2 separate regions of the Homo sapiens genome follow, and region 1 is linked to region 2. The links come from fine-mapping of genetic effects on gene expression. Tissue or cell type: whole blood. Region 2 holds a variant in brackets; the other region holds the start of a gene. All regions are shown on one strand. Distances are between the middles of the regions.

The links. PIP is the estimated chance that this variant, and not a neighbour inherited with it, causes the effect. A credible set is the group of variants that fine-mapping cannot tell apart.
Region 1: it holds the start of ZNF331, and the variant in region 2 is the best candidate, but not a certain one, in a credible set for the expression of ZNF331 in whole blood (INTERVAL, PIP 0.66).

What each region holds. Positions count from the first base shown.
Region 1 is chr19:53,534,621-53,543,516 of GRCh38, forward strand. ZNF331 (zinc finger protein 331) reads left to right here and starts at 3,525. Exons shown (of 6, transcript NM_001079906.2): 1 at 3,525-3,676; 2 at 4,596-4,662. RefSeq lists enhancers at 3,253-3,769, 3,555-3,604.
Region 2 is chr19:53,575,428-53,586,335 of GRCh38, forward strand. It overlaps ZNF331 (zinc finger protein 331), which reads left to right. Exons shown (of 6, transcript NM_001079906.2): 6 at 1,270-4,842. The coding sequence ends at 2,525. Among named protein-coding and RNA genes, the nearest start is that of ZNF331, 43 kb to the left of the region's middle. RefSeq lists an enhancer at 1,429-2,628. The variant C/A (reference allele first, on the strand shown) is at 5,826.

The DNA.
Region 1 (8,896 bases), 42 kb before region 2:
AAGTTCTTCTTGTATCACCTCATTCCCCACCTGTTTCTGTCATCACATGTTTCTCTTCTTCAGAACTCCCTCACCTACTTTTAAGGAACTTTGTAATTGCACCAGGCCCACCTAGATAATTCAGGGTAATCTCCGTATCTGAAGGGTGGCTGGTTAGCAATTTAAGTCCATCTGCAACCTTCTTTATCTTGCCTTGTAACATAACATATTCCCAGGTTCCAGATGTAGGATGTGGATATATTCTGCCAGTAACAGGCCTGTCCATCAAACTTTCCTGAATAGCTAGAATGTACCCACTCCCCTATAACAATGGTCTGTTTTCCTTACTAATCTTTTTTTAAATTTGGGGCTCCCTATAATTATATACTTTATAATGGGATTAATGAAAGCCTGTAACCAAAAAAAAAAAAAAAAAAAAATTATTCCCCTAAGAAGCACACAAAGAGGAAACTAAAAATTACCCTTATTTATTTATTTATCTATTTATTTATTAAGACAGAGTCTTGCTTTTGTTGCCCAGGCTGGAGTGCAATGGTACAAGCTCGGCTCACTGCAACCTCTGCCTCCCGGGTTCAAGAGATCTGCCTCAGCCTCCTGAGTAGCTGGGATTACAGGTGTCTGCCACACATTCAGCTAATTTTTGTATTTTTAGTAGAGATGGGGTTTCGCCATGTTGGCCAAGGCTGGTCTCGAACTCCTGGCCTCCAGTGATCCACCTGCCTTGGCCTCTCAAAGTGCTGGGGTTACAGGTGTAAGCCACTGTCCGGCCGTAATTACCCATATTTATACCATCTAAAGATAATTACTGTTAACACTTAGTATGTATGTTTACTGTCTTCCCCTCCACCTCTAAGCATGTGTGTGTTTTGTTTCTGGAACATTGAATCCTATTAATCATGTAAATGAGGCAAAAACTCTCCAAATCATAGTTTGTAAAAGAAATCCAGCCCAACCACGGGTCACATTATGTCTGTGTGCATGTGGAGAGAAGAGAGATACCAGTCATGTTTCCTTGCTTTGAAAAATTAATCATTGATGAATATGAAAATAGTCACTGGATACCTTACAAATATGGACTTTGGAAATATTCCCAAGGTTATATGTGCAAGTAACGAATATTGACTGTAACATTTCAAAGGTATATGAAATAGAATGAGATAGCACTAGTTTAAAATGTTCACTTTTTTTTTTTTTTTCTTTTTTGAGATGAAGTCTTACTCTGTCACCCAGGCTGGAGTGCAGTGGCGCAATCTTGGCTCACTACAACCTCTGCCTCCCAGGTTCAAGCGAATCTCCTGACTCAGCCTCCTGAGAAACTGAGATTACAATCTCACCACCATGCCCGGCTAATTTTTGTATTTTCAGTAGAGACAGGGTTTCACCATGTTGCCCAGGTTGGTCTTGAACTTCTGACCTCAAGTGATCCGCTCACCTTGGCTTCCCAAAGTGCTGGGATTACAGGTGTGAGCCACTGCACCTAGCTGATAAGAATCTTTAAACTAGATTTTTTAAGGAACTATCATGTCTCTGTCTCCCTAGTTAAAAGGAAATAGCAGACTTGTTACTTTTATGAAAATGGATTGAGATATGTTACTGATTTTTTAGTAATAACAGCTACCTTATCTTAATTGTTATATATGACTGTGTGTTTCATGTGGATGATCCTGTTCAAACAGTCATACATTGTACTATCTTTCTTGTGGTTTTACCAGTGAGGAAACTTTACCACACTGTGAAGTTAATAACTATCAGAGCTCAGATTAACACCCTCAAATCAGACCACAGAGCCTGTGTTAATTTCACCAAAACATGTCTGCTCAAATTATATGTACCATTTTAACCTACCCTTTTCCCTTGTTGATTCTTCAGAAGTTTTCTTAATTAATGAGTCAGTATTATTAGGAAATGTACTCTATGTCATTGTATAACAGACCATGGTTTAATCTGATTTTCCTTTATCCTCCACTGCAAGATTTTCATTTTTAAAAATTATTCTCGACTGGGTGTGGTGGCTCACGCCTGTAATTCCTGCACTTTGTGAGGCCGAGGCAGGCGGATCACCTGAGGTCGGGAGTTCGAGTCCAGCCTGACCAACATAGAGAAACCCCGTCTCTTCTAAAAATACAAAAAAAATTAGCCGGGCGTGGTAGCGCATGCCTGTCATCCCAGCTACTGGGGAGGCTGACGCAGGAGAACCCCTTGAACCCAGGAGGCGGAGGTTGCAGTGAGCCGAGATCGCACCATTGCACTTGAGCCTGGGCAACAAGAGCGAAACTCCGTCTCAAAACAAACAAACAAACAAACAAAAAATTATTCTCTGGAAATTCTGGGTAACGTCAGTGGATTACATCAATGTTAATCTTCTGGTTGTGGTATTATATACTACAATCACCAGCTGAGGTAACCAGGTGAAAGGTACACAAGATCTCTCAATTTTATTTCTTGTAACTACATATGAATCTAAAGTCTATCTAATTAAAAGAGAAAAAGATTTTCAGAAAAAAAGCATTTTGTGAACATACTTCAACATTGTGTACAACTATAGCTACTTCCTTGGCATAAATACCAAAAAGTGGGATTTTGAGTCAAAATGAGACTGTGGTTAAGTACCTGCAACATCCTGTAGACCCTGTGACGTTAGTACTTGGAATGAGAGCGGGACTCACGGGGCATAACTGCTACCTGTACATTGTTTACAATGCAGCAAGCAAGGGACACCGAATAGCAGCTCCGGCAGCCTGTGCTAGCGGCCTGCAGAGAATTCCAGGTGACGCTCCAGAGGGGCTAGGAGAGGATACCCTTCTGAGGACAGCCATGGCTCGCCCGGCATCACCCCACTCAAGAGGCCAGACGGGGTCCCAGCTGGGGTGACACAGCTCCTTTCCCAGTCGGGAAGGGGCGTCTGCAGGGACCAGGAAGGGCTTAGCTTGGGGCTGCCCGCTCCGGCACCGACCTGGGACGCGCCCTGAGGCCCCTGCCTGGGACCGTCCCGGACTACATTTCCCAGAGACCATCCAGGAGTACGCCGTGCTGCATGCTGGAACACGGGGCTTGGGGCTCTGGTTTCCCCCGACGGCCCCGCGTCCTCTTCTAGCCTCACCCTCTCCCGAGGCCCCAGCGTTGGGGGACTACCGGGTGCGTCTGCGGCTTTGGGAGAGTGGGAGGAGGGAAAGGGATGGGAGGGGTGCACGCACACGTGTCAGTGTGTCCGCGTGTCAGCATCTGTGCAGGCGCACGTGTGTGTCGGGCTCTGTTGTGTCTGCACATGCGTGTCGGCATCTGTGCGTGCGCACACGCCCGTCAGGGTCTGTGTGCCCGCACAGGCACGTCAACAGCTGAGCACGCTATGTATCGGGGGTCTGTGTACGCTCACATACGTGTCGGGGTCTGGGTACGTGCACATACGTGTAGGGGTCTGTGTGCACATGCGTGTCGGGCTCTGCTGCTGTCTGCGCGCTGCGGCCGCTGGGTGCGCGTGCGCATGCGCGCTGGCCTCCAGGGGGTGGCGGGACCGAGTGTGTGACGCACTTGCGTGGGAGTACGAGGCTGACGCGGCGGCCCTGTCCCCGTAACTGTGACACGGGTGCACGCGAGCGTCATTGGGGGCGATGGGGGCCGTGCTGGGTGCGCGTTTGCACCAGTGACGCAGCCGCTGCATCTCCGCCAGTCCGCGCAGGTGAGATTGGTGCGCGTGGCTCCGAGGGGAGACGGGCACGGGGCTTCTGACGGTGACGCACTTGCTGGAGAGTGTGGGGTGACACAGCCGGGCTCTCCCCATAACTGGTGACCGGGGGTGCTCCAGAGGCTTTGGGTCAACGCAGCCCGTGCCTGTGAACCTCGGCGGTGCGTCCCTGGGACTCTGCTCCGTGAGGTGCGCTCTGGGGGTTGTGCGGGGGCAGCGGTCGGGACGGGTCTCCGTGGCCCACGGATGCACCTCTGCACCGTGTGGGGTGGTGGGGCCCGTAGCATGGCCGTGCTGGGCGTTAGTGGGTATGAGGGGCGCAGATGTGTCTCAGGACAGAGTGAGCTGTGGTGAGGCTGAGCTGTGCAGACTTGTGCTGGGATGGGTGATCGGGCCTTCTGGGTGACGCAGGTGTGTGTGACAACACAACCTGTAGCTTCAGCGTCTCTGTGCTGGGATGGATGATCGGGCCTTCTGAGTGATGCAGGTGTGTGTGACAGTGCAACTTGTAGCTCCAGCGTCTCTGCTGCTTCCCCTGCCTTCACCTCCTAACCAAGCGGTACCTGCCTGAGAACAAGGGCCGCGGAGGGACGTGAGCGCCTGAGCCTCGCCTGGAAATTCACCAGCAAGAAGGCAGAAACAGCCATGAGGTGACGCTTTCAGAGCCAGAAGTGCTGTGCATGCAGGCCACCTGAGTGACAGGGGACGGTGGCCTCAGGAGTAGAATTCCTCCTGTAGAGGGACAGGTCCCTGATGTGGGAGACAGGGAGGGGGGCAGCTCCACGCGTCATCATCTCAATCGCCACAGCGTGCTCTTCAGGAATCTCCCAGAAACTCCATCTCGGGGCCTCGTATTTCTCATTGGTTTTATTAGGTATGGCAGGTGTTACCCTTCCGGTTCTGTTTTCCCCAGGCCAGCATCCTTCAGAAAAAGCATCCCCGAGGAGGAAGACGAATCGTTAAACATCTGAAAGGGTCAGGTGAGTATCCTTTTTTTTTTATATTAAATGATATGTGTTTATAAGACTTAAGACCAAACATTAAAGGTAGATGACCAAGATTTGAGTCCTGTTTCTGCCTCTTAGCTTTTTGAGCCTTCTGAAGATAGGCTTGTGAGGAGGGTGAAATGCATTAACACGCATAAAACCCATAGACGCGCACCCCTGAGTGGGAGTGCACAGTGAGTGCTGCTGTTTTGTGCTAAGTCTGGATGTCTGTACATCAGGAGCAACGTACATATGAAGGTAACTGGGATGGGTGTTTGCAGGTTCACAAAATGAACCACAGCCTCAAATGGCCTAGAACTGTTATCCTTAACCTGAGGGCCTGCCTTTAACTCCACTTACAACTTTCCAAGGGACATTCTGTGTATATTTACTGTATGTGATTATCAGTGTTAGTGTATCTGTCCCCCACCACCACCACCCTAAGGAGATACTCTGTAATTTCATGGCATTAAGAAGGATGGACATGCCCCAAAGACATTTAGACCCATTGGTCTACAATCGAAGGCTGTGTACCTTGACCACAATTATTGTTCAGGATGGTGGAAATGGTTAAGTAATTATACCACGTTCATTTCATGGAATACTCTGCAGCTACAAAGAAGTAAGTTTAGTTATAACCGTAAGAAAGAAAAATGCACCTGACATAATATTAAACACTACTAATAGTTATTAACAATAGTAAATGAAGGAAATGCTTCAGTTGCCTACAAATTCCATTGAATAAGATTTTTGTAAATACCTTATCCAACATGACATTTTAGTATATTATTTAGGATTATTCATGAATCCTTCAAAAGAGAGGAGCCTGGCCACATTTATTGAGCGCATTTTTGTACCATACTCTATTGTGTTTTGCACACACTCCTTAATTTATTCTTACCTTAGTCTGTAACAAAGTACCATAGACCGGTGGCTGAAACCACAAACATTTATTGCTCACAGTTCTGGAGGCTGGAAGTCTGAGAAGAGGGTACCAGCATGGTCAGGTTCTGATGAGGGCCCTTTTCCAGGTTGGAGACTGTCACCATCTTGCTGTGTCCTCTCACGGAGGACATGTGTGTGCTTGGAGGCTCTTTGGCAGAGCTCTAGGAGGTGTGTGTGCTTGGAGGCTCTAGGAGATAGTCTTTTTTTTTCTGTAATTGAGATGGAGGCTTGCTCTGTTGCCCATGCTGGAGCGCAGTGGCACAATCTTGGCTCACTGCAACCTCCACCTCCCAGATTCAAGTGATTCTCCCGCCTCAGCCTCCCGAGTAGCTGGGATTACAGGCACATGTCACCATCCGCAGCTAATTTTTGTATTTTTAGTGGAAACAGGGTTTCTCCTTGTTGATCAGGCTGGTCTCGAACTCCTGACCTCAGGTGATTAATTAGCCGGCCTCAGCCTCCCAAAGTGCGGGATTACAGGTGTGAGCCACCGAGCCTGCCCTGTGGGAGGTATTTTATGTCCTTGCTTTTGCTGGCTTCTAGACACTGCCCCACATGCCTTGGTTTGTGACCCCTTCTTCCATCATCAAAGCTGCAAAGACAGGCCAAGTCCCTTTTCCATCACGTCACTCTGACCCTACTTCTTTCTGTTCATCTCACCCTCTTCTCATTTTGAGGACCCTGGTGATTACATTAGGCCCGCTGAGGTAACTCAGGATAATCTTCCCTATTTTAGTGTCAGCCCATTAGCAATTTTAGTCCGCCTGCAACCTTAATTCCCCTTTGCCATGTAAGGTAATATCATCATAGGTGCCAGCATTACCATATTGACATGTTTGAGAGAGGCAACGAGAGAACAATAATCATATTTCTTTTCTTTTTTTTTTTTTTGAGACAGAGTTTCGCTCTTGTTGCCCAGGCTGGAGTGCAATGGCGTGATCTCAGCTCGCCGTAACCTCTGCCTCCTGGGTTCAAGCAATTCCTGCCTCAGTCTCCTGAGTAGCTTGGATTACAGGCATGCGCCACCACACCCAGCTAATTTTGTATTTTTAGTAGAGACGGGGTTTCTCTTTTGTTGGTCAGGCTGGTCTCGAGCTCCCGACCTCAGGTGCTCTGCCTGCCTCGGCCTCCCAAAGTGCTGGGATTACAGGCGTGAGCCACCGTGCCCGGCCTATATTTCTTCTTTTATGTGTTTTTGTTTTGTTTTGTTTTGTTTTTTCCTTATAGACAAGGTTGTGTTCTGTTGCCCATGCTGGAGTGCAGTGGGTTGATAATAGTTCACAGCAGCCTCAATCTCCTGGGCTAAAGTGGTCTTCCCACCTCGGCCTCTCAAGTACCTGGGATTACAGGCACCAGCCACTGTACCCTGCTCCTATCTTGTTATATTTCTTATAATAGGATTAATGCAGGCCTGCTGGGGGCAAAGAAAGAAACAGTCCCTAAGGAGCCCTTAAAGAAGAATCTCCAAATTACCCATAATTGTACCATCCAGAGATAATCACTGATGAACATTTTAAATGGCCAGCACTTTGGGAGGCCAAAGCGGGATGATCACTTGAGGCCAGGAGTCTGAGACCAGCCTGGGCAACAGTGAGACTCCATCTCTACTAAAATAAAAAATTGAAAAAGATTAGCCAGGCATGGTGATGCATACCTATAGTTTCAGCTACTCAGAAGGCTGCTGTGGGAGGATCACTTGGGCTTAGGGGTTCCAGGCTGCAGTGAGCCATTGCACTCTAGCCTGGGCAACAAAGGGAGACAGTGTCTCAAAAAAAAAAACAAGAAAAAAACATCTGAAATGGTATTTATGTTTCTAGGCCTCTTCTTTGCCTCTAAGCATGTGTGTGTTTTGTTTTTGGAGTATTGAATCTTGCTAATTCATCATAAATGAGTCAGAGACTCCAAATCTTAATTTATAAAAGGAATCCAACCCAGCCATGAGTCGCATTACACCTGTGTGTGTGTTGGGAGGGGAAGGGCTATGCCAGTGATCTTTGCCTTGTTTTGAAATATCTCACATATTTCTACCTTGTAGGATTAGAAATCCATCATCTGAATCTAACCTATGGTAACAAATTTTCAAGAAAGACAGCCTTTTAGAATTAGATTATAGAATGTTAATGTTCCTTTCCCAGGACATCACAATAATCACCCATGAACACTAATCACTGGGTGCCTTGCAGATACGGACTTTCCATGTGACATTAGCAAGATTATTTGTACAAGTAACAAATATGGGCTGTATAAGTAACATTTCCAAGATAGAAAAAGAATTAGATGACAGTATCTCATATGTATCTCCCTTATCCCGTGGAACACAAAATTCAGCCTCTTGCTAATGTTCTCAACTTGGCATCTTCTCAGATTAGAGTCATTAAATTAGATTTTCTTATGCAGAACAATGTCTCTGTCCCCCTAGTTGCTGATGGAAAGGGAACATTTCCTCGTTATATTTCTTAGAATCTCTTTTGCTAATGTATTCATTTTGTTAAACAAAATGAATTTCATTCTTAACATCAGACTCTGAATGTTATTTTTGGTTAATATTGATTACGCAGACAGCGGGTTCAAGGAAGGCACTTTTGTTTTTCTTGAGACAGAGTTTCGCTCTGGTTGCCTAGGCTGGAGTGCAATGGCGCAATCGCGGCTCACCGCAACCTCTGCCTCCCGGGTTCAAGCGATTCTCCTGCTTCAGCCTCTTAAGTAGCTGAGATTACAGGCAAGTGCCACCACGCCCAGCTAATTTTGTATTTTTAGTAGAGACAGGGTTTTTCCATGTTGGTCAGGCTGGTCTTGAACTCCCGACCTCAGGTGATCCACCTGCCTCAGCCTCCGAAAGTGCTGGGATTACAGGCATGAGCCACCGCGCCCAGTGGCACATTTTACCATTAGAAAAAAAAGGAGGGGGCCAGGCATGGTGGCTCACACCTGTAATCCAAAGCACTTTGGCAGGCTGTGAGGCAGGAGGATCGCTTGAGCCCACAAGTTCAAGACCAACCTGGGCAACATGGTGAGACCCTGTCTCTATTATGAATTTTTTTATTTTTTTGAGACGGAGTCTCGCCCTGTCTCCCAGGCTGGAGTGTAATGGTGCAATCTTGGTTCACTGAACCTCCACCTTCCAGTTCAAGCAATCCTCCTGCCTCAACCTCCTGAGTAGCTGGGATTACAAGCGCGCACCACCATGCCCAGCTAGTTTTTTGTATCTTTAGTAGAGACGGGGTTTCACCACGTTGGCCAGGCTGGTCTCAAACTCCTGACCTCGTGATCCGATCCGCCTGCC
Region 2 (10,908 bases):
TTTTTATTAAATTTAGTCTCGTAAATTATCTTTTTTGTTGCTTTTGAATGTTGTATTCTTTTACCCAGTTGCTTTTTTTTTTTTTTTTTTTTTTGAGACGGAGTCTTATTCAGTCGGCTCACTGCAACCTCCACCTCCCGGGTTCAAGCGATTCTCCTGCCTCAGCCTCCCAAGTAGCTGGGATTATAGGCTCACACCACCATGCCTGGCTAATTTTTGCGTTTTTAGTACAGACAGGGTTTGTTTGTTTTTGTTTTTTGTTTTTTGTTTTTTTGATATGGAGTCTAGCTCTGTCACCCAGGCTGGAGTGCAGTGGCACAATCTCGGCTCACCGCAACTTCTGCCTCCCGGGTTCAAGCGATTCTCCTGCCTCAGCCTCCGGAGTAGCTGGGATTACAGGCACCCACCACCATGCCCAGCTAATGTTTGTATTTTTAGTAGAGACAGGATTTCACCGTGTTGGCCAGGCTGGTCTCGAACTCCTGACTTCATGATCTGCCCACCTCGGCCTCCCAAAGTGCTGGGATTACAAGCGTGAGCCACCGTGCCCAGTCTGTTTTTTTGTTTTTGTTTTGAGACAGAGTTTCATGCTTGTTGCCCAGGCTACAGTGCAATGGCATGATCTCGGCTCACTGCAACCTCTGCTTCCCAGGTTCAAGCAATTTCCCTGCCTCAGCCTCCCGAGTAGCTGGGATTACAGTCATGCGCCACCATGTCCGGCTAATTTTGTATTTTTAGTAGAGACAAGGTTTCTCCATGTTGGTCAAGCTGGTCTCGGACTCCCGACCTCAGGTGATCTGCCTGCCTTGGCCTCCCAAAGTGCTGGGATTACAGGCGTGATGAGCCACCACTCCCGGCCCTTTACCAGTTACTTTTAATAATACTACTGACATATACGTGTATCAGTTTCAGAATGCTTTACACACAGCCATCCAACTGCATATTGTTTTGTTACAGTACTTCTATATTTGGTTTTCCAAGTATATCATCACATCATCTACAAATACTTGTTTTCATCTTCAAAATAGGAAATAATAGGACTAATTGTCGGGACCTTTTTCATGTCTGACTTTAAAATAGATGTCTCCAATGAATTCTCAGTTAGTATTGTACCAGAAGTAGAATCTACATTTTAACAAGAGCCCTGGGTGATTCACATTTATTCTACTGGATAATTTTTATTTCTATTAGACGAGTTTTTGGTTTGTGGTTAGGTTCGTTTGTACTTGTGTCCCTCTAAAGGAAAGAAAATATGTTCTTTTTTCCCAGATTTGGAGTCAGCATATGAAAATAAGAGTTTACCTACAGAAAAAAACATTCATGAAATAAGGGCTTCCAAAAGGAATTCAGATAGAAGAAGTAAATCCCTTGGCCGTAACTGGATATGTGAAGGTACGCTTGAAAGACCACAGCGCTCCAGAGGGAGGTATGTCAATCAGATGATCATCAATTATGTCAAAAGACCTGCTACTAGAGAAGGCACCCCTCCTAGAACACATCAGAGACATCATAAGGAGAATTCCTTTGAATGTAAGGACTGTGGGAAGGCCTTTAGTCGTGGCTATCAACTTAGTCAACATCAGAAAATCCATACTGGTGAGAAACCTTATGAATGTAAAGAATGTAAGAAGGCCTTCCGTTGGGGCAATCAGCTTACTCAACATCAAAAAATTCATACTGGGGAGAAGCCCTACGAATGTAAAGACTGTGGGAAGGCTTTTCGATGGGGCTCAAGCCTCGTTATTCATAAGAGGATTCATACTGGTGAAAAACCCTATGAATGTAAAGACTGTGGAAAGGCCTTTCGGCGTGGTGATGAGCTCACTCAGCACCAGAGATTCCACACTGGGGAGAAAGACTACGAATGCAAAGACTGTGGGAAGACCTTTAGCCGTGTGTATAAACTTATTCAGCACAAGAGAATTCATAGTGGGGAGAAGCCTTACGAGTGTAAAGACTGTGGGAAGGCTTTTATTTGTGGTTCAAGCCTCATTCAGCATAAAAGAATTCACACAGGTGAGAAACCCTATGAATGTCAAGAATGTGGGAAGGCCTTTACTCGAGTCAATTACCTTACTCAGCATCAGAAGATCCACACCGGTGAGAAGCCTCACGAATGTAAGGAGTGTGGGAAGGCCTTTCGCTGGGGTTCGAGCCTCGTTAAGCACGAGAGGATACATACGGGCGAGAAGCCGTACAAGTGCACAGAATGTGGGAAGGCCTTCAATTGTGGCTATCACCTCACTCAGCACGAGAGAATCCACACAGGCGAAACCCCGTATAAATGTAAGGAGTGTGGGAAGGCTTTCATTTATGGATCGAGCCTCGTGAAACATGAGAGAATTCATACCGGGGTGAAACCCTATGGGTGTACAGAATGTGGGAAGAGCTTTAGTCACGGCCATCAGCTTACACAACATCAGAAAACGCACAGTGGGGCGAAATCCTACGAATGTAAGGAGTGCGGGAAGGCATGTAACCACCTAAACCATCTCCGAGAACATCAGAGGATCCACAACAGTTGAAGAGCCTTTTGAACGCAGTAGCCCGCTCGTATCTATGGTTTCGCTTTCCACAGTTTGTTACCTGCAGTCAACTGCAGTTCAAAAATATTAAATGGAAAATTCCAGAAATAAAGAATTTTAAGTCTCAAATGGTGTGCCCTTCTGAGTAGCGTGATGAAATCTCTCGCTGTCCGGCTCCAGCCGGCCGGGGATGTGAGTCATCCCTTGGTCCAGCACATCCACGCTGTATACGCCACCCACCCTGCTAGTGACTTAGTAGCCGTCTTGGTGATCAGATCAACTATCCCAGCATCACAGTGCCTGTGCCCAAGCAGTCCTCACTTTGCTTAACAGTGGCCCCAGAGAGCAGGAGTAGTGATGCTGGTGATTCGGATATGCCAAAGAGAAGCCACAAAGTGCTTCCTTTTAAATGAAAAGGTGAAAGTTCTCAACTTAAAAAAGAAAAGAAAAAAATCATATACTGAGGTTGCTAAGATCTACATGACAATAAGATATTTTGGGAGAGAGATACGTTCACATAATTTTATTACATATATTGTTACAATTGTTCTATTTTGTTAGTTACTGTTGGTAATCTCTTACTGTGCCTAATTTATAAATTAAACTTTAGATATGTATGTACAGGAAAAAATGTAGTATATAGTATCGTATATATGTACAGGAAAAAAACGTACTATCTGTGGTTTCAGGTGTCCACTGCGGGTCTTCAAACGTACCCCCCTCAGGTGAGAGGGGACTGCTGTACAAAGAATATAGGAAGGCCTCTAGACTACATCCATTCCTTCCTCAACAGGAGGAAAATTCCTGGTACAGTTTAACGTAAGGCTTCACTGATCACTGTTGTTTTTGTTTTTGTTTTTGTTTTTTTGAGACAGAGTCTCACTCTTGCCCAGGCTGGAGTGCAGTGGCACGGTCTTGGCTCACTGCAACCTCCACCTCCCAGGTTCCAGCAATTCTCCTGCCTCAGCCTCCCCAGTAGCTGGGATTACAGACATGCACCACCACACCTGGCTAATTTTTGTATTTTTAGTAGAGACAGTTTTCACCATGTTGTCCAGGCTGGTCTCAACTCCTGACCTCAGGTGATCCACCCACCTTGCCCTCCCAAAGTGCTAGGATTACAGGCGTGAGCCACTGCACCTAGCCCACTGATCACTCTTCTGCTTACAGAATATCAGAAGTCATTCTAGAGGCAAATTTGAAGAGTGGAAAAATCACTTTTTCTGAATGATCTTGTTTTTGGTGTAGATGTTTTTATTGTGTGGGTTAGTTTAATGAATACATAAAGACTACCAGTACCATTCTGTCTTTACTCCGTGGCATCTGTGGAATAACCCTGCTAATGTAACACGTGAGAAAGCCTTTGGTCATGCCACCCACTCTACCAGTTGTCCCCACCATCCCCCGCCCTCCTCCCTGTGAGACACTGGGCCAAAGGCTCACTACCCCTGTGCGTTGTCCAGCACACAGACACTATGTGCATTATTTGTACATAAGGATAATCACATCTACCTGAGACTGCTATCATGGAAATTAAATGTTTGGTACATGTAAAGTCTTTGAAAGTGTAACTGGAATATTGTGTAATTTTAATAAATAATAACTATTGTTGTTTTTATGATCATTACTACCATTTGTGTTGCCATTAGTGAATTTTTACAAGAAAACTCCCTGTGGGTGCAATGAGTCTGGAAAAGACCATTGAGTCTTCTAGAAGAAAACATTAAGAGATTATTGGCACAGCCGTGGGTTACGCAATGATTTCTTAGTACACAAAACACAGCAAACATAAAAAGTTGTTACACTTCATCAAAAGTACAAAGTTCTGTTCATCAAATGATGCTGTTAAGATAGGGAAAAGACAAGAAACAGGACTGGAAGAAGATGTTTGCTCTAAGGTACACCTGACAAAGGAACTCTCATAGAAAATATAAAGAATCCCTCAAGTTGAAAAAAAAATCAATTTAAAGGGGAGAAAACTTCAGCACGTCTCAACAGAAGACCACCAAATGGCCAATAAGTAAGTGAAAATGTATTCAATGTCATTGCTCCTCAAGGAACTGTAGAGTAAAACCACAATGTGCTGTCACTCTAGACAGTCACCAGGATGATTAAATTTAAATCACAATAACAAGGCTGATTTCAGATGTCTCACCACAAAGAAGGAGGATAAGGGAGCGAGGTGATGGATATGTTAATTAGCTTGATTTAATCCTTCCACATTGTATACATGTATCAGAACATCACATTGTACTCCATCAATATAATACAATTATTATTTGTCAATCAAATATTAATAAAATCAAAGATGAGCAGGTCTCTTTGTTGGATATTCAAACACGACCTATTCAAGAAGGAACCCCGCCAGCAGACTGGACCTCTGCTAAACCCTAGCGGTGCCCACAGCAGGGACAGCGCGGGAGGGAGGTGAGCGGACTGGTCCTGGGGACGGGGTCAGGGCCCAGAGTAGAGTTGTTACAGGAAAGGGGTGCCAATCCAGACCCCAGGAGAGAGTTCTTGGATCTCACACAAGAAAGAATTCAGGACAAGTCCTCAGTGCAAAGCAAAAGCAACTTTATTAAGAAAGTAAAGTGGTGGGACCAGGTGCGGTGGCTCACGCCTGTAATCCCAGCACTTTGGGAGGCCGAGGTGGGTAGATCACCTGAGGTCGGGAGTTCAAGACCAGCCTGGCCAACATGGCAAGACCCCATCTCTACTATAAATACAAAATTAGCCAGGTGTGTGGGCACACATCTGCAGTCCAGCTACTCGAGAGGCTGAGCCAGGAGAATCACTTGAACCCGGGAGGCAGAGGTTGCAGTGAGCTGAGATCACACCACTGCACTCCAGCCTGGGCGACAGAGGGAGGCTCCATCTCAAAAACAGAAAAAGTGGCGAAAGGACAGCTACTCCACAGACAGTGTTGGACGCTCCTGACGTTAGGAGGAACGCATCCACCCTAGGTCCAATGCTCACATATATGGGGAGACGTGCTCTGCTACAAGGGTTTGTGATGAAGGATTCATTCTCTTCATTATTTTGCAAGAATTGATATTATCTTTAAAGCAAAACTAGGAATGCCTTTGTTCTCCAGATATCAGGATATCTGGACACTCCCAAGTGTGGGTCTGTTTAGTAACTGTTAATAATTTGTTCCCTTAACCGTAAACATCTGGAGGCTCGGAATTGCCTACATTTCTCAGAATGCAGCCCAGCAAGTCTCAGCCTCATTTTCCTAGCCCGCACTCAAAATGGAGTCGCTCTGGTTCAAACACCTCTGACAGAGTCCTGGGGGAGGTG[C/A]GGACACAGACTCAGGGGAGAGACCTGAACTATCTTAAGATGGTCCTAGGCTGAGGGTAGGATTACCTTAGGGAAAGGACCAGAGCCCATAGTAGGAATCGGAGAATATGGATTGGGGAGGACTCTAGACCCCATGGGAGTGAGTTTGACGGGGCAGAGGAGTGGCTAATGGGCATGGGAGGGCCTGGCTAGAGCTCAGGGATGAATTCTGGGAGAGAAGGGATAGAGGCCTGGAGAGAGGCCTTGGGGCTGGGAGAGGACTGGAGTGCTCCTGAGAGCAGCTGCGGAGATGGAGGGCGGACGCTACATCCTGCAGGAGAGCCTTAGGCACGGGGGATGGTGGTGTGGTTAGAGCTCAGGGGTGTCCTATAAAGGTTGGCAAAGGATCCAGAATATAGGGTTGAAGTCCTGCTTGTTTGATTTACCTCAAGGGTAGGGTTACGTTTCAATCAAAGCTGCTTAGTTCTCGGATTACAAATACCTCAGCATTAGGTTAAGGATTCAGATTCTCCAGGGGTGGTGGGGAAGTGAGGGAGCATGTTTGGGGAAGGGGTTCCAGACCCAGGTTTCAGAGCTGGGTATCTTTCTGGTCTAGGCTTCAGTACCCTTAGGAATCAACCTCATAGGCGGCACCGTCCTGCTTAGTGCCCCTTTCCCCTGTGGACCCTACGCCAGCCTCAGCAGAAGGGGCCCAGGGTCCCTTCCTTGCCACCAAGAGCAACACGCATGGTGGGGCCACTGCTCTTCCCAGCATTCCCGCATAAACAGAGGAGGAGCTGGGTGGGGTAAGGAGAAGGGCAGGGGAAGGAGTGTGAAGAGGAGAAGCAGGTGGAAGACAGTGAGAGGAGGCTGGAGGAATGTGGGAGTAGGGGTAGGGAGAATACTGAGAAACGAGGAGGCTGTGCAGAAAGGCAGCACTGGCCTGGCCTTACAGGACACAGCCAAGGCACAGGAAGACAGCCTGGGTGGACAGGGTTAGTTCCCAGAAGGAAATATGGGAAGAATGTGTGTCAGGCAGGACTCTTGGCTCAAGGAGCAAAATCCAAAGTTTATATAAAAAGCCCAGAGGTGGGCCAACGCGGTGGCTCACGCCTGTAATCTCAGCACTTCGGGAGGCTGAGGCGAGTGGATCACTTGAGGTCGGGAGTTTGAGACCAGCCTGGCCAACACAGTGAAAACCTGTCTCTACTAAAAATGCAAAAATTAGCCCGGCACAATGGTGCACACCTGCAATCTCAGCTACTCGGGAGGCTGAGGCAGGAGAATCACTTGAACCGGGCAGGCGGAGGTTGCGGTGAGCTGAGATCCAGCCAGTGCACTTTTTTGAGACAGAGCAAGACTCCATCTCAAAAAAAAAAAAAAAAAAAAATCCCGGAGGTGGCCAGGCGCAGTGGCCCATGCCTGTAATCCCAGCACTTTGGGAGGCCTAGGCAGGCAGATCAACTGAGGTCAGCAGTTAAAAACCAGCATGGCCAACTTAGTGAAACCCTGTCTCTACTAAAAATACAAAAATTAGCCAGGCGTGGTGACCCACGCCTGTAATCCCAGCTACTCAGGAGGCTGAGGCAGGAGAATGGCTTGAACCCAGGAGGCTACGGTGAGCTGAGATCGCCTCGCTGCACTCCAACCTGAGCTACAGAGTGGCTAATTTTTGTATTTTTAGTGGAGACGGTACAGTGGTTCATGCCTATACTCCTAGTACTTTAGGAAGCCGAGGTGGGCAGATCACCTGAGGTCAGGAGTTCAAGACCAGCATGGCCAACATGGTGAAACTCCGTCTCCACTAAAAATACAAAAATTAGCCAGGTGTGATAGCGCATGCCTGTAATCTCAGCTACTCAGGAGGCTGAGACAGGAGAATCGCTGGAACCCAGGAGGCAGAGGTTGCAGTGAGCCAATATCGCTCCACTGCACTCCAGCCTAGCCGGCAGAGCAAGACTCCGTCTCATAAAAAAAAAAAAATAATAATAATAATAAAGTTTACCCTAGCTTGGGCAACATAGTGGGATTCTGTCTCTACAAAAAATAAAAATATTAGCCAGGTGTGGTGGTGCTCACTTGTAGTCCCAACTACTCAAGAGGCTGAGGCAGGAGGATTGCTTGAGCCCAGGAGGTGGAGGCTACAGTGAGTGATGATTGCATCACTGGATTCCAGCCTGGATAATGACAAAAAAACAAACAAAACAAACAAAAACCCTACAAAGAGCAGTAACAACAACAACAAAAAAAAAACAGGGCGGGTACAGTGGCTCACACCTGTAATCCTAGCACTTGGGGAGGCTGAGGTGGACGGATCACCTCAGGTCAGGAGTTTGAGACCAGCCTGACCAACATGGTGAAACCCCGTCTCTACTAAAAATACAAAAATTAGCCGGGCAAGGTGGCGCATGCCTGTGATCCCAGCTACTCAAGAGGCTAAGGCAGGAGAATCGCTTGAACTCAGGAGGCGGAGGTTGCTGTGAGCCGAGGGTGTACCACTTCACTCCAGCCCGGGCGACAGAGTGAGACTCTCTCAAAAAAAAAAAAAAAAAAAACTACAAAGAGCAGTAAAAGCCATGGGGTAAAGGGTAACCATGAAGTCAAAGAGCTTTACTAAAGTAAGTCATTATTGAGCCGGGCTTGGTGGCTTACGCCTGTAATCCCAGCACTTTGCGGGGCTGAGGCAGGCAGATCACCTGAAGTCTGGAGTTCAAGACCAACCAGGCCAACATGGGGAAACCTCATCTCTATTAAAAATACAAAATTAGCTGGGTGTGGTGGCAGATGCCTGTAATCCCAGCTACTTGGGAGGCTGAGGCAGGAGAATTGCTTGAATCCGGGAGGCGGAGGTTGCAGTGAACCGAGAATACGCCCCATTGCACTCCAGCCTGGACAACAAGAGTGAAACTCTGTCTCAAAAAAAAAAAAAAAAAAGGAGGTACATGAGTTGTACGCAAAAGCTACAAAACAGTTGAAGTTGTAGAATAATTTTTTTAAAAAACCTAAATAAATGGAAGGGTTTTTTTTTGTTTTTGAGACGGAGTCTCACTCTGTCGCCCAGGCTGGAGTGCAGTGGTGCACTCTCAGTTCACCGCAACCTCCACCTCCCCGGTTCAAGAGACTCCTGCCTTAGCCTCCTGAGTAGCTGGGACTACAGGCACCTGCCACCATGCCCAGCTAATTTTTGTATTTTTAGTAGAGCCAGGGTTTCGCCATGTTGACCAGGCTGGTCTTGAACTCCTGACCTCAGGTGATTCACCCGCCTTGGCCTCCCAAAGTGCTGGGAATGAAAGGATATTTCATGGTCCTGAATTGGAAGATTTAATATTGTTAAGATGATGGCTGGGCACGGTGGCTCATGCTTGTAATCCTAGCACTTGGGGAGGCTGAGGGAGGAGGTTTGCTTGAGCCCAGGAGTTCCAGACCAGCCTTGGCAACATGGCAAGATCCCATCTCTGTATTATTTTTTTAAATAAAATTTCAAAGATAACAATATTACCCAAAGCAATATATACATATTCAATGCAATATCAATAAAATACTCAATGACAATTTTTTGCAGAAATGGAGAAACCAACTCTTAGAGTTGTATGGAATTTCAAGACACCCCAAATAGCCAAAATAAAGAACAGTGGAGGACTCACACTTCTGGATTTCAATTTTTTTTTTTTTTTGAGACGGAGTCTCACTCTGTCACCCAGGTTGGAGTGCAGTGGCATGATCTCGGCTCACCACAACCTCCACTTCCCAGGTTCAAGCAATTCTCCTGCTCAGCCTCCCGAGTAGCTGGGATTACAGGTGCCCACCACCATGCCTGGCTAATTTTTGTATTTTTAGTAGAGATGGGGTTTTGCTATGTTGGCCAGGCTGGTCTCAAACTCCTGACCTCGGATGATCTACCTGCCTCGGCCTCCCAAAGTGCTGGGATTACAGATGGAGCCACTGCACCCGGCCTGGATTTCAAAAAAATTTTAAAAAGCAATAGTAATTAAAACAGTGTGGTATACGATAATGGCAAAAGGATATACATACATGGCTGGCGTGGTGTTGTGCACCTGTAATTCCAGCTACTCAGGAGGCTGAGGCAGGAGAATCGCTTGAACCCAGGAGGTGAAGGTTGCAATGAGCCGAGATTGTGCCACTACAGTCCAGCCTGTGCAACAGAGTGACTTTCTGTCTCCAAAAAAAATTTTTTTACTTAAAAAAATTACATAAATATTATATGTATAATATCTAAAAAACAAAATACAAAAATAGCCAGATGTGGTGGCACCCACCTGTAGTCCCAGCTACTCAGGAGGCTGAGGCGGGAGGATCACCTGAGCCCATGAGCCCAGGAGGTCGAGGCTGCAGTGAGCTGTAATTGCGCCACTGCACTCCAGCCTGGGCAACAGAGTGAGACCCTGTCTCTAAAATAAATAAATAGGCCGGGCGCGGTGGCTCACGCCTGTAATCCCAGCATTTTGGGAGGCTGAGGCAGGGGGATCATGAGGTCAGGAGATCGAGACCATCCTGGCTGACACTGAAACCCCGTCTCTACTAAAAATACAAAAAAAAAAAAAAATTAGGTGGGCATGGTGGCGGGCACCTGTAGTCCCAGCTACTCGGGAGGCTGAGACAGGAGAATGGTGTGAACCCAGGAGGCAGAGCTTGCAGTGAGCCGAGATCACGCCAGTGCACTCCAGCCTGGGTGATAGAGTGAGACTCCATCTCAAAAAAAATAAAAAATAAATAAATAAATACAAGCTAGAAGGGTTTTGAATGTTCACAATACAAATAATAAATGTTTGAGGTGATGGATATGCTAATTACCCTGATTTGATCATTACACATTGTGTACAGAAATCAAATTATCACTCCATATCCCATAAACACATGTAATTATTATGTGTAAAATAAGAAATAAAGAATTTATGAGAAATTATTTGCTACAGAGCAGACATCATTGTCTGGAGAGGCAGTAATTACACAAAGTTATAGAAGCCGAGGAGCAATTGGGAAGGTTCTGATCTCTTTTAGGCACCTGTGGCTGAGTGAAACTCATCACCAAAACAAGCCCCATCTGAACCCATGCACGCAGCAAGATCAACAGAATAACTCTGCG